3 separate regions of the Homo sapiens genome follow, and all the other regions are linked to region 1. Evidence: fine-mapped expression QTL. A gene starts in region 1. Each other region holds a variant in brackets. All regions are shown on one strand. Distances are between the middles of the regions. Region 1 holds the start of LYPD8 (LY6/PLAUR domain containing 8). Region 2 has its middle 15 kb from the start of OR14I1. Region 3 has its middle 31 kb from the start of SH3BP5L.

Evidence for each region. PIP is the estimated chance that this variant, and not a neighbour inherited with it, causes the effect. A credible set is the group of variants that fine-mapping cannot tell apart.
Region 2: its variant is the best candidate, but not a certain one, in a credible set for the expression of LYPD8 in whole blood (GTEx, PIP 0.70).
Region 3: its variant is the best candidate, but not a certain one, in a credible set for the expression of LYPD8 in whole blood (TOPMed, PIP 0.72).

Annotation. Positions count from the first base shown.
Region 1 is chr1:248,754,058-248,758,299 of GRCh38, reverse strand. LYPD8 (LY6/PLAUR domain containing 8) reads left to right here and starts at 2,541. Exons shown (of 7, transcript NM_001085474.2): 1 at 2,541-2,595; 2 at 2,914-3,061.
Region 2 is chr1:248,715,431-248,719,672 of GRCh38, reverse strand. No RefSeq gene overlaps it. Among named protein-coding and RNA genes, the nearest start is that of OR14I1, 15 kb to the right of the region's middle. The variant G/C (reference allele first, on the strand shown) is at 2,412.
Region 3 is chr1:248,792,346-248,796,587 of GRCh38, reverse strand. No RefSeq gene overlaps it. Among named protein-coding and RNA genes, the nearest start is that of SH3BP5L, 31 kb to the left of the region's middle. RefSeq lists a silencer at 2,924-3,013. The variant G/T (reference allele first, on the strand shown) is at 2,145.

The DNA.
Region 1 (4,242 bases):
TATTGATAGATAGATGGCCTTGGAAAAACACAGAGGAATGGGGTGATGATTCCAGGAGTAAATAAATCATCAGGAGGCATTTCTTCAGGGCCTGATGATTCCATTTTAAAGACAAAGAGCTCTGGCCCAACAAGTGCGGTTAATAAGTAACTTATGTGATGTGAGGGACAAAGTCTGGATTCAGACTCAGATCTTTGTGGTCGCTTTGGGTCCATTTGCCTGAGTATCTGGTGCCTTCTGAGAGGAATTAACATTGATCAGCCCGATTTTCTCATGCCAGTACTCAGCCTGACACCAGAGCTGTTATCTCAGAGGCAGTGTTCATGAGCTCTTTGGATCCTCCATCGGTGGCTCAGGGAGGCCACATTCCTGAAACCCGCAAGCCCACACACACCCCATTGGATATTACTGTGCCACTTCTCTTGTTGTGCCCTGCCAGGTGACTGACTAATGTGTGCTGGGAAACAATATGGTTCTGTTAGGGAGGAAGCTGCTTTTTTTTTTTTTTAGGAAAATGCTGTGATAAGCAGCCTGAAGGCAGATGGTGAGGAGAGGAGAGAATAAGAGATGGCCAGAGTCTCTGCTTATAAAAATAACTCAGATTTTGTCTTCTCCATGAGACCTACTACAACCTCCTCATTGAAAGTGGAAGCCTGCACCTGCTCACCCCCTAGCATGGTTGATGACTTATCCTACTCTTTGTCTTTTTGCCAGAGCAGTCACCACATTCTGACTTTCCCTGTGATTTGCTTATTTACCACTTTAATTTATGTTGTCTGTAGTCCTCTCTAGACTACACTCCAGGAGGGCAAAGGTCTTTGTCTTTTTGCTCACAAATACCTCCCGGTTTCCTACAGTAGGCCTAAGACAGGGAGGGTGCTCAAAAAATGTTTGTTGAATGAATGCATGAGTTTGGGGAAGGAAGAGAGAGCTGAGACACAGGTAGCGTAGCCATCCCCAAGGGGTATTTTCAAGAGCAGGGAACTGCAAGGTTTAAATGCAGGCTGGGGGATACTGGTATGATGTGTGCCCCTCAACCTCTGCATCCTCGGCTGAGTGGGCTCCTCCCACTCCCCACCGTGTGTGTATAAAGTGTCAGCACAGTGGAAAGATGAGGAGGGAAGATAACTCAAGTCCACACTCAAAACCAGGAGCACCCATGGCACAGTGTGAGGAGACTGGGAGAGTGTGAGGGTTAATATTGAGTGTCAACATGATTGGATTGAAAAGTATTGCAAAGTATTGTTCCTGGATGTGTCTGTGAGGGTGTTGCCAAAGGAGATTAACACTCGAGTCCGTGGACTGGCAGAGGCAGAGCCACCCTCAGTCTGGGTGGGCACCATCTGATCAGCTGCCAGCTCTGCTAGAATATAAAGCAGGCAGAAAAATGTCAAAAGGCTAGACTGGCCTAGCCTCCCAGCCTACATCTGGGTGGACATCATCTAATCAACTGCCAACACAGCTAGGATAAAAGCAGGCAGCAGAACGAGGAAGGACCAGACTGGCTGAGTCTCCCAGTCTCCATCTTTCTCCCATGCTGGATGCTTCCTTCCCTCAAACATCGGACTCCAAGTTCTTCGGCTTTGGGACTCTTGGGCCTACACCAGTGGTTTGCCAGGGGCTCTCAGGCCATCAGCCACAGACTGAAGGCTGCACTTTTGAGGTTTTGGGACTCAGACTGGCTTCCTTGGTCTTCAGGTCACAGACAGCCTATTGTGGGACTTCACCCTGTGATCATGTGAGTCAATACTCCTTAATGAACTCCCCTTCATACATATATAAACTCACCTTCTCTAGAGGACAGAGAACCTGACTAATACAGAGAGGCCTCAGTTGACCTGACCTGGGCTGTTACCAGTAGCTGCTCAGATCACTTGGCCAGAAAGACTCTCTCGATGGCTGCTGTGGGCTCTCACCCAGTGTGCAGAGCACACTGCAGGCAGGGGCTTCACGTCATGGTCCCTCTACCACACTATGAGGCTGCACAGTGAGTTTACACTCATCTTGGTTGGAGGACCCTCAAATCTAACAAGGTTAAGACACTTGCCTGTGGGAAACTGAGGCCCTTTCCTGAGTTGCACAGACCCCACATAGTCTGATTCGGAGCTCTGAGTTCTGACTGTGCCCCGGCTGTGTGCCCATGAGCATATCTCTTATGGCTCTCTTTCTGTGCTTTGGTTTTCTCATCTATAAATGGGCTAATCATGGTGACTGTTAGCAGGTTGTTAGGTGCTTGTCATTAGCAGGTCATGGAATTGACTTAGAAGGCCACAGACAATGCTGGAAGATACCTTACTCCTGTTTACATTTTGCCAAAGGCAGGCCTTGACCAAAGTTGTTCCCAATTCCTAGAGGTCTCAGAGAGGGCACGAGCTGCACAGATGCCAAAGGGTTGGGCAGCCTGTAGCTCTATTGGGCAGGGCACAGTCTGAGAGCCAGAAGCCTTAGCCTGTCTGACCCAGAGGTCCCACCCCAGAAGACAGCTGTGCTTTTTGATTTTACAGCCACCTGCTATATAAGGCCTCTCCCATACCAGCCCTAAGCCTCTACTGGGAACCACCTTCTGTAGGACAGTCACCAGGCCAGATCCAGAAGGTGAGAGGACTGCGAGGCCGGGGCCTGAGCCCTGGGAGAAGCTGAAACCGCAGGAAGGGCATTCAGGACCAGCTCAGGTCCTTCCCCGGCCAAGTCCAGGACATTCTTGCGGCTCTTGCTCCTTTGGCATTGCCCTAGGCAGTCGTATGCTCAGGAGAGGGAAGTCTGGAGTTCAGGGAGGATGTGGGCTGGGGATGTAGTTTTCTTGTTGTTTTGCCATCTGCTACTGTGTGTGTGGTTTGTGTGTAGTGTGTGCGTGTTCTGTGCATCATTCTGTGTGTGACATTCTTCATTCTGTGTGGTTTTGTGTCCTCACAGCCTCTCTAGGCTCCAGCTTTCTCTGTGGAAGATGACAGCAATTATAGCAGGACCCTGCCAGGCTGTCGAAAAGATTCCGCAATAAAACTTTGCCAGTGGGAAGTACCTAGTGAAACGGCCTAAGATGCCACTTCTTCTCATGTCCCAGGTGGGGGCCCTGCCTTGAGCCCCAGCTTCACTGGTCCCTCTTACCCACAGAGGTGTTGAGCACGGCCCTGGGTCCTGCTATGGGGTCACTCCCAGGCTCTGTTTCTCTGCTAGGTGNCCCTGGGTCAAGTCCTGACCTCTCTGGGCCTCCATCAATTCTCCCTGAAAATGAGGCTAGTTTCAGGTCTTCACCATAGGCTGAGGTGATCTGTGCACTTGATGGGCTGCTGGGGTCTCCTTCTCATCTCATCTCATCCTCTCCTTTCCCCTCCTCCATCACACTGTAAGACCTGAGAGGCCCTTTCCCAGAAGGCCATGGCCCTGAAACTCTTTTCCCACTGAGGAGAAAAGCAAGCAGCTGGGGTTCCAGGCCTGGAGGGGTGCACCCGGGCATGTAGGGGTGCACCGGGCCTGGAGGGGTGAGGGGCTGGCGCACGTCTGCTACAAGCTCCAGACCAGATGTGCTTTATTTTCCTCCTTGGATCTCTAAATGGTGGGGTCATTGGCATCATGTATGGGCCTCTTCTCCCAGACCGACTGGTTTCCCTTCCTTTTTACCAATCTCTAATAAGTCAACCAGGGTATCAGGGTAGGGTGTGTGGTGTTTGTGTGTGGTTTGTGTATTGTGTATATGGTTTGTGTGCATGTAATGTTTGTGGCATGTGGTATAAATGGCATGTGGGGTGTGTGTGTGTGAGGGTGTGTGATGTGTATGTGTCTCTGTGTGTGGAGGCATATGGTGCATGTGTGGTGTGTGTGATGTGTGTGTGATATGGTGTGTGTGGGGTTTGTTTGACGTGTGTGAGGTGTGTGGTGTATTGTGTGTGTGTTTGATGTGTGTGACAGGTGATGTGTGGCATGTGATGTGTCGTGTGTGTGGTATGTGGTGTGGTGCGTATGTGGTGTCTGTGATGTGATTTGCATGTGTGTAGTATGTGTGATGTATTTAGCGCATGGTGTGTTGTGTGTGTGATGTGTGTGACTTATGTGTGGGGTGTGTGTTTAATGTGTGTGGTGTGTTGTATGTGGCATTTAATGTGTGTTGTGTGTGTTCGGTGTGTACCTAATGTGTGTGACATGTGATGTGTGGTGTGTGTGAAGTGTGTGTGGTGTGGTGTATGTGTGGTGTGTGGTGTGGTATTTGTGTATGTGGTGTATGTGTGTGGTGTGGGGTGTGCTGTG
Region 2 (4,242 bases), 39 kb after region 1:
TGTTCCAGTTCTTAGAGAAAAAGCTTTTTCCTGTTCAATATCATGTTAGTTGTTGATTTGTCATATATAGACATTGTATTGGGGTGTGTTCCTTCTGTATCATATTTGTTTAGAGTTTTTATCATGAAGAAATGTTGAATTTTATCAGATGTTTTTTCTGTGTTTATTGAGATGATCATATGGGTTGTTTTTCATTCTGTTGATGTGATATATCACATTTATTGATTTGCATATGTTGATCCATTCCTGTATGATGGATATCAGCCTGTAGTTTTCTTTGGTGTGTGTGTGTGTGTGTATGTGTGTGTCCTTTTCTGGTTTTGGTATCAGTGTAATGCTGACTTCGTAGAATGAGTTAGTAAAGATTTTTTTCTCATCAGTTTTTTGAAATAGTTGGAGAAGAATTGCATCAGTTTTTCCTTAAAATTTGGTAGAATTGAACAGTGAAGCCATTCAGTCCTGAGTTCTTTGATGGGATTTCTTTTTTAGAAAATAGAGACAGGATCTTGCTCTGTCATCCAGGCTGGAATGCAGTGGCATGATTGTAGCTCCTGGCAGCCTTGAACTTCTGGGCTCAAGCGATCCTCCCACTTCAGCCTTGATGGAAAACTTTTAATTACTGCTTTGATCTCATTACTTATTGTCAGTCTGTTCTAGCTTCCTGTTTCATCATGGTTAAATTTTGGAAGCTTACATGTGTCCAAAAATCTATCCATTTCTTCTAGGCCTTTCAATTTGTTGGCATGTAGTTGTTCATAATAGTCTCCAATGATCATTTGTAGTTCTATGGTATCAGTTGTAATGTCTCTTTTTTGTTTCTGTTTTTATTTACTTGGTTCTTCTATTTCTTTTCTTTTTTTTTTAGAGATGGGGTCTCACTGTCGTTCTGGAGTGTAGTGGTTCAATCATCTCTCACTGCAGCCTTGAACCCCTAGGCTCAAAGGATCCTCCCACCTCAGCCTCCTGAATAGCTGGGACTAGAGGCATGAGCCACTATGTCTTGCTGATTAAAAATTGTTTTTGCAAAGTTGGATGTCTCACTTTACTGCCTAAGCTGGTCTTGAAATCCTGGCTTCAAGCAATCCTTTCACTTTGGCCTCCCAAAATGCTGGGATTACAGGCATGAGTCAATATGCCCAGTCTCTTTTCTTTCTTAGTTACTCTAGAAAATGGCTTGTTGATTTTGTTATTTCAAAAAAATAAATGTTTTATTTTGTTGTATTGTTTGTTTTTGTCTCTATTTTGTTTAGTTCTACTCTGATCCTTATTATTTATTTCCTACTACTCATATTTGGATTGGTTGGTTCTTCCTTTTCTAGTTCCTTGCGGTGAATTGTTAGATTGTTTAATTGAAATCTTTTTACTTTTTTGATGTGTTTTTACAGATTCCAAAAATTTTTTTTATGTTGATTTCTAGTTTTATTCCTTTGTGATCTGAGAAGATACTTGATATGGTTTTGATTTTTAAAAAGTATTGAGTTTTTTTTTTTTGTGGCCTAACCTGTGGTCTATCCTGGAGAATGTTCTATGTGCTGAGAAGAATGTGTATTTTGCAGATGTTGGATAAAAAGTTCTGTTAATGTCTGTTAGGTGCATTTGGTCTATGGTGTAGTTTAGATCTGATTTTTTTTTGTTGACTTTCTGCTTAATCTTTACAGTGATGAAAGTGAAGTTTATTTTGCCACAGTTGAGGATGCATACCCATGACACAGCCTCAGGAGGTCCTGACAACATGTGCCCAAGGTGGCACAGTTTGGTTTTATACATTTTAGGGAGACATGAGACATCATTCAGCATATGTAAGATGAAACATTGGTTTGGTCTGAAAAGGCGGGACATCTCAAATCAGGGAGGGACCCTCCAGGTCATAGGCAGATAAGAGACAAATGGTTGCATTCTTTTGAGTTTCTGATTAGCCTCTTAAAAGGAGGCAATCTGATATGCATTTATCTCAGTGAGCAGAGGGTGACTTTGAATTGAATGGAAGGCAGGTTTGCCCTAAGCAGTTCTCAGCTTTACTTTTCTCTTTAGCTTAGTGATTTTGCAGCCTCAAGATTTATTTTCCTTTCACATTTTCTCCTTTTTATTTCTCAAAATCTTTTGGAGAAAGCATATTAGAAGAAAATTAGTCTTTGTCCTCAGGTTTTATCTGATCTCTCATGGCTAGGATGGTTTATTCCTAGATGGGTAGGTCCTGAGTTATTAGGAAAATTCATTTTTGGCAGATTGTGAAGTCTCATGTTCTATGAAGGGAAAATAGGGAGAGAAAGGGAGAAAAGCAACAATAACAAAAGAACAATCCTGGAGAATTGATATAGACCACATTACTCTGAAGTCTATATGTTAGTAGGCAGGTATGAAAGTGGGTTATGTATGTAAATAGGTTGCTGTTATTTTCTTCTAAAGTTTAA[G/C]TTGTCTAGCTTCAGTTCACAGGGCTTTATGAAAGTACAGCTTAGTTTTCAATGACTCCAAATTAGGAAAAATGGGGGAAAAAGAAGAAAAAAAACTGAAAACATTTTGAAGACTTATAGCCCAGAAACATTAGAATTCAGTCCTAATTGTAGAAAATAATAAAAATGGAAAAACATTAGGCAAGACTAGACTCTAACAACAGTTGTACTATAGTTTTTGAAATAGAATTTTTCTCTCTCCAGTTTCCCACTTTTACTAAAGACAAATCATGGTAGGATTAATTTGCTTTATTATACTTGGCCTAATTATGTGTATAAAGTGCAGAAAGAATAATTTTTTTACACAGGCTTTTAAATTGGCTTTGATGGAACTTTGTTCTATAGAAGGAGTCTCAAATAAGACTTTTTTAAAGCCAAGCCCAGCCATGGGTTTGTAGCATCAAGTACCTATGAGTTGGGTGAATTCTTTTACTCTTGAGATTCCAAGATAAACTTGGGGCTCCTGGGCCTGTCAGAAAGTGACATGCTTTACTTACCACACATCAGGAATCCTGTACAGGGACTGTGTAGACAAGGTATGAGGCCAGTTTTCCCAAGTAGCTTTTATTGGCTCCATAAGTCAAGTTTGATTCCTTAAAGGAAAGCACACCATTCCAGCCAAAGCCTTCATAAAATAACCAGTTTCCCTTATTGTGCCCTGTTATAAATAAAAACAGATTCTTATTGAACTTATGCAAATAACTGTATTGACATGAGTTAAAGATACTCACAAATAGTTTTCAAATTCTGGATAAATCAGGTAGAGAGAAACAAATATATTCTAAATTTTGTTCATAGGAGTATATTAAATTGTTAAAAGCTGTCAGTAGCTCAAAAGAAAAGTTTATTTGCCACCGAAAAAACAAAACAAAGAATCAGAAACATTTTAAGCATAAGTGAAAAAGATTACTTTAGTCTTCTATTAGTTCACCCCATGTAGTTAATTCCTGTTCTGCTTGATAGTCATGAACATTTCAGTTCTCCATAAGTCCTAAAAGTTTTTCTTCTATTCCAATGTCACAATATCCAAAGTTATCAGAAACTTGTATTCAAGAGTACCTGTTAGAATTTTATAGCTGATTAGAAAACTACCTTTTAAAGAGGACCAAAACAAGACAATTGTCCATGGATGACAAAATGTTTTAGGGCAACCATAGTCAAAGACTATAGTCATAGTCATAGTCAATAGACAGGGAAAGTTGTTACCTTTGTGGCACATGATAATTTAACATAATTATAATTATTACTAATAATGTACACTAATTCATATGAGAATTACAGGAGTTTCCCATAATTTTGGAATACATACCAATAACATATTTCTACAAACATAGGCCAAAGAAATTTAAACACCATTTTATATTTGACAATGTTTCATATATTTTATTTATATATATAATGCTTATATAATATATATATAATATATATATATACAAAACGTTTATTCCAAATAAGCAAATTATGTCATTTTTGAACTTTAAGGAACCTAATATCTTAAAGGATTAAGTCAGAAAAAGACATAATTTATATCTTTATTTTGGAAAGTTTGTCAAATATCAAAGATTTAAAACATTTGACATTACAGGTCATTGTAAAATAAGTCATTCATTTGACCAAAGTGATAACTCAAGGATTTCAAAAAAAGGTGAAAATCTTCATTCTTTGAGAGAGGAGACTCAATTTCCCAAACAGTAAGCCCTAATAAAAACAACATTAAGCCAATTAAATTTGTTTCTCAAAATTTTATAAACAATCTATAAAATTTTAGTCTTGATCATAAGATATAACTTCC
Region 3 (4,242 bases), 38 kb before region 1:
GCGTGAGCCAGCGTGCCCGGCCAGGCTCAACAAATTCTCCCACTTCAGCCTTTTGAGTGGCTGGGATTACAGGCATGTGCCACCATGTCTGGTTAATTTTTCTTGTATTTTTTTGTAGAGATGGGTTTTCACCAAGTGGCTGAAGCTGGTCTCAAATTCCTGGGCTCAAGCAATCCTCCCGCCTTGGCCTCTCAAAGTGCTGGGATTACAGGTGTGAGTCACTGCACCTGACCCCTAAGCAAATTTGGAAATTAGTAGAATCTGTAAGACAAAAGGCAAAAGAAACTGTTCATAAGCACTGAACTCCAGTAAATAAAGTTGTTTCCCATGGAGGTAACAATTCTGATACTGCTATACATGTATGCTAGAATTCAACAATTAAGTAAATGGATGGCAGATAGTGAAAGCCAGGTTACAGATAAACAAGGGGAGGGGGCTAGAAGGACTCACATGTTAATGGATTAAAATTGGAGACAGTGGTATGAATTAATGTTTAGCTTAATATGGATAGAGAGTTACATATACAAATATTTATAAATATGTGTATACATAAGTGTTAATGCACACTCATATATCTCCTTGATCAGTAAGCTGAGAGGGTTTAGACGCAATGACACCCTGGTATCAGTAAAGCAGAGTCACTCATCAGTGAAACTCCAGACTTTGACATGCAGCTTCTGATACATTGGCTACTCCTGGGGTATAGGATGTAGAACTTAACATATGCCCCCACAGAAGACCCCTTGTCACATTCTGTTTTCTCCTCCACCTTCCCCAGCAAGCTCTCTGCCCTTAAAGCCAGTCACATGTAGTGACCTTCTATGCCCATTGCTTTACAAGGGAAACTCCTGCTTAGATACCTGGTCATTAGCTTACAGAGAAATTCTGGGAAAAGGCAGTGAGAAAGGCCCTCTCACCAACTCACACAGTGCCACCCTAATAGGAGAAGGGGACCACTCAATGAGAGTTTCTTTACTCATTTTCCCTGAAGCAACCATTGTAGCAGCTGTCACAGAACAAAGAAGTCTCAGGTTTGCTGATGCAGAAAACTTCTAATAGTATTTAAGTAACGTTTTCTAACATCTACCAATTAAAGTTAGAGGAAATCTTAGGGTGAAGTTTTTGCAGGCTACCCATCATAAACATTCTGCAAAGAGCTCCAAACTATTGATTTTTAAAAAAATTTGTAATAATATTCCAAAGTCCAAAATGTGTAGGGTAGACCAGCAGTTTGGAAACCCAAGTAAGAGACAGTTTGTTGAGAGAGTTTCCTGTATATGTAATGTTTTTCAATAAATTTAGGAAGTTTTTAGTCATTATTTCTTTGAATATTTTTTGCTGCTTCTTTCTCTTCCTTCTCTCTCTCTTTTTTTCTTTTGGGACTTCCCCCCTGTTGCTCTGTTCATTTTTATATCCTTTATTCTGCCAGTTATTAAGATTGTAAAATCTCTATCAGTCAATCTTCAAGTTTGTTCTTTCTTCTGCAAATTCAAGTCCAATGTTGAACTCTGCTAAATTTTTTATTTCAGCTATTGTACTTTTCAACTCCAGAATTTACATTTAAAAAATAATTTCTATCTATTGATATTCTCTATCTGATGTGATATTATCATCATACCTTCCTTTAGTTGTTTAATCAAGTTTCCTTTAGTTCTTTGAACTACTTTGAAGACTTTTTTTTTTTTTTTTGAGATGGAGTTTCGCAATCTTTTCCCAAGCTGGAGTACAATGGTGTGATCTCGGCTTACCACAACCTCTGCCTCCTGGGTTCAAGCAATTCTCCTGCTTCAGTCTCCTGAGTAGCTGGGATTACAGGCATGGGCCACCACGCCTGGCTAAATTTTGTATTTTTAATAGAGACGGGGTTTCTTCATGTTGGCCAGACTGTTCTCGAACTCCTGACCTCAGGTGATCCACTCTCCTTGGCCCCCCAAAGTGTTGGGATTACAGGTGTGAGCCATGAAACTTTGTTAAATCTGACATCTGGTAACTTGTGAAGGTGAATTTTATGTGTCAACTTAGGCCACACGGTATCCAAATATTTTGTCAAATATTATTCTAGAAATTTCTGTGAAGTTATATATTGGATGAGACTAATATTTAAATCTGTAGACTGAGTACAGCAGATTACCCATTATGATATG[G/T]GTGGGCCTCCTCAAATCAGTGGAAAGCCTTTATAGAAAAAGACTAACCTCCTTGGAAGAAGGAAGACTTTTGCCAGAAGACTGCCTTTGGACTCAAATTACAAGTCTTCCCTGGATTTTCAGCCCTGCCAGCCTACTCTGCACATTTGAACTTGCCAAGCCCCCACAACTGCATGAAGAAATCCTTTAAAATGAACCTCTCTCTCTCTCTCTCTCTCTCTCTCTCTGTCTCTAAACATCCTGTTGATTCTGTTTTCCTGGACAATCCTGACTAATATATCATTCATAGAGGCAGTTTCTGTTTCCTGATTTTTCTTTAGTTTATGGGCCATATTTTCTGTTTCTTTGCATGTCTCATAACGTTTGTTGGAAACTGGACATTTTAGATCACGTACTGAAGCAACTCCGGGTGTGCCCGCCACCTCAGGTGGGCTTGTTATTGTTATTTGCCTGCTTATTTGTGTAGTGATTAGCTGGATTATTTTCCTGAAGCCTATTCTCCCACTACCACACTCATTCTTCCCCACCCCCTGCAGTGGGAAGCCTCTAAGCCTCTAATGTTGCTCCTCACAGGACACAACCTTTGGTATGCCCACAGTCATTGTGGGATGATGGTGGTTTTGGCAGATTTCTTTTTGACTATCTATTCCTGAACTTACTCAGCTGTTAAGCTCTCTAATTGCAGGCTGATTGCTCAGCTGTTTTCAACAATGCTCTGGGCATCCATTGCCCTATAGGCTTAGCTAATCAAATTCAGGCTCCTTTGTAGGGACAGTTACCAAAGTCACTGAAACATGTTCTGACTCCAGGAGGGCTCTTTGTAGTTGTCTGGTGTCTTGTTTCTCTCTGGCAAACCAGCCGGCCTACAGTTTAGCCTATATTTCTGTCTTAGTCAGCTTGGTGTGCTATTACAAAATATTATAAACTAGGTGGCTTATAGACAAAAGAAATTTATTTCTCACGGTTCTGGACACTGAAAGTCCAAGATCAGGATGCCAGCATGGTCAGGTTCTGGTGAAGGCCCTCTTCAGGTTGCAGACTGTTGACTTCTCATTGTATCTTCACATGGTGGAAAGAAGGTGAGAGAGCTCTCTGGGGTCCCTTTTATAAGGTCACTAATTCCATTCATGAGGGCTCCACCCTCATGATCTAATGACCTTCCGAAGGCCCCATCTCCTAATATCATCACATTGGGGGTTATAATTTCAACATATGAATTTTGGGGGAACACAAGCATTCAGTCCATAGCAATCGTCAATGAATCTACTAATTGCTTCCCAATCGCCTTTCACCGCAACCGCCACTGTTTTATTCCCCCTATATTTAGAGGACTCTTAGACTTGAACTTCAGACTCAGTTATAAGTGAGGTCTGTTCCTTTGAGTAGAAAGCTGGAGCTCTCTGTTCTATGCCTGCTTCTGCCCCTGGGTAAAATCTCTGAGCCATGGCTCTGGAGAAAATGGCATGCTTCTCCTGAGTGACGCCTCTACTTTAGGAGCTGAGCACTTGGTAGAATGGTGTGCAGCAGCCCTAGAATTTCTCAGGTTGGCCTTTATTGGCATGGGACTGCTGCCAGTGAACTAGGGCAGTGGTGATTGGGGCCTCAGTATTTGCAGTATGTGCAGTATTCTCAAGGTCGAGCCTGTATCCCATGACTAGGAGAGGCAAGGAAGAAGGGAGTCTTCACTTGTCAGCCATACTCACCTGGAATTTATTATCTTCAGTAGGAAGAAACTGGGGGTAGGATGAGACATGCTAACTTTCTGCTCCAGAAAGTGTGAAAGTTATCAGAATCAAAACAAGTCCCTTGTTAACAAAGCTCCGACAAAAAGAGCCAGAAAAGGCCGTGAACAGAGGGTTCTCACGCACGAATGCCTGATAACAGGAACTATCACAAAAAGCTCTGCAAAAACCACAGCCTTGCACAAAGACCATCACAGCCTTACACAAAAATATAATTCTGCGAGGACATCTGCCCAGCAACTGCTTGTCCAACCTCAGACTGGCACCACCTTTATTATTTGATTCTTATAGCCAAGGACAGTTATCTCAAAACAATTATGTAATCCTCCTTATTTTTCCTTTAAAAACCACTGTCT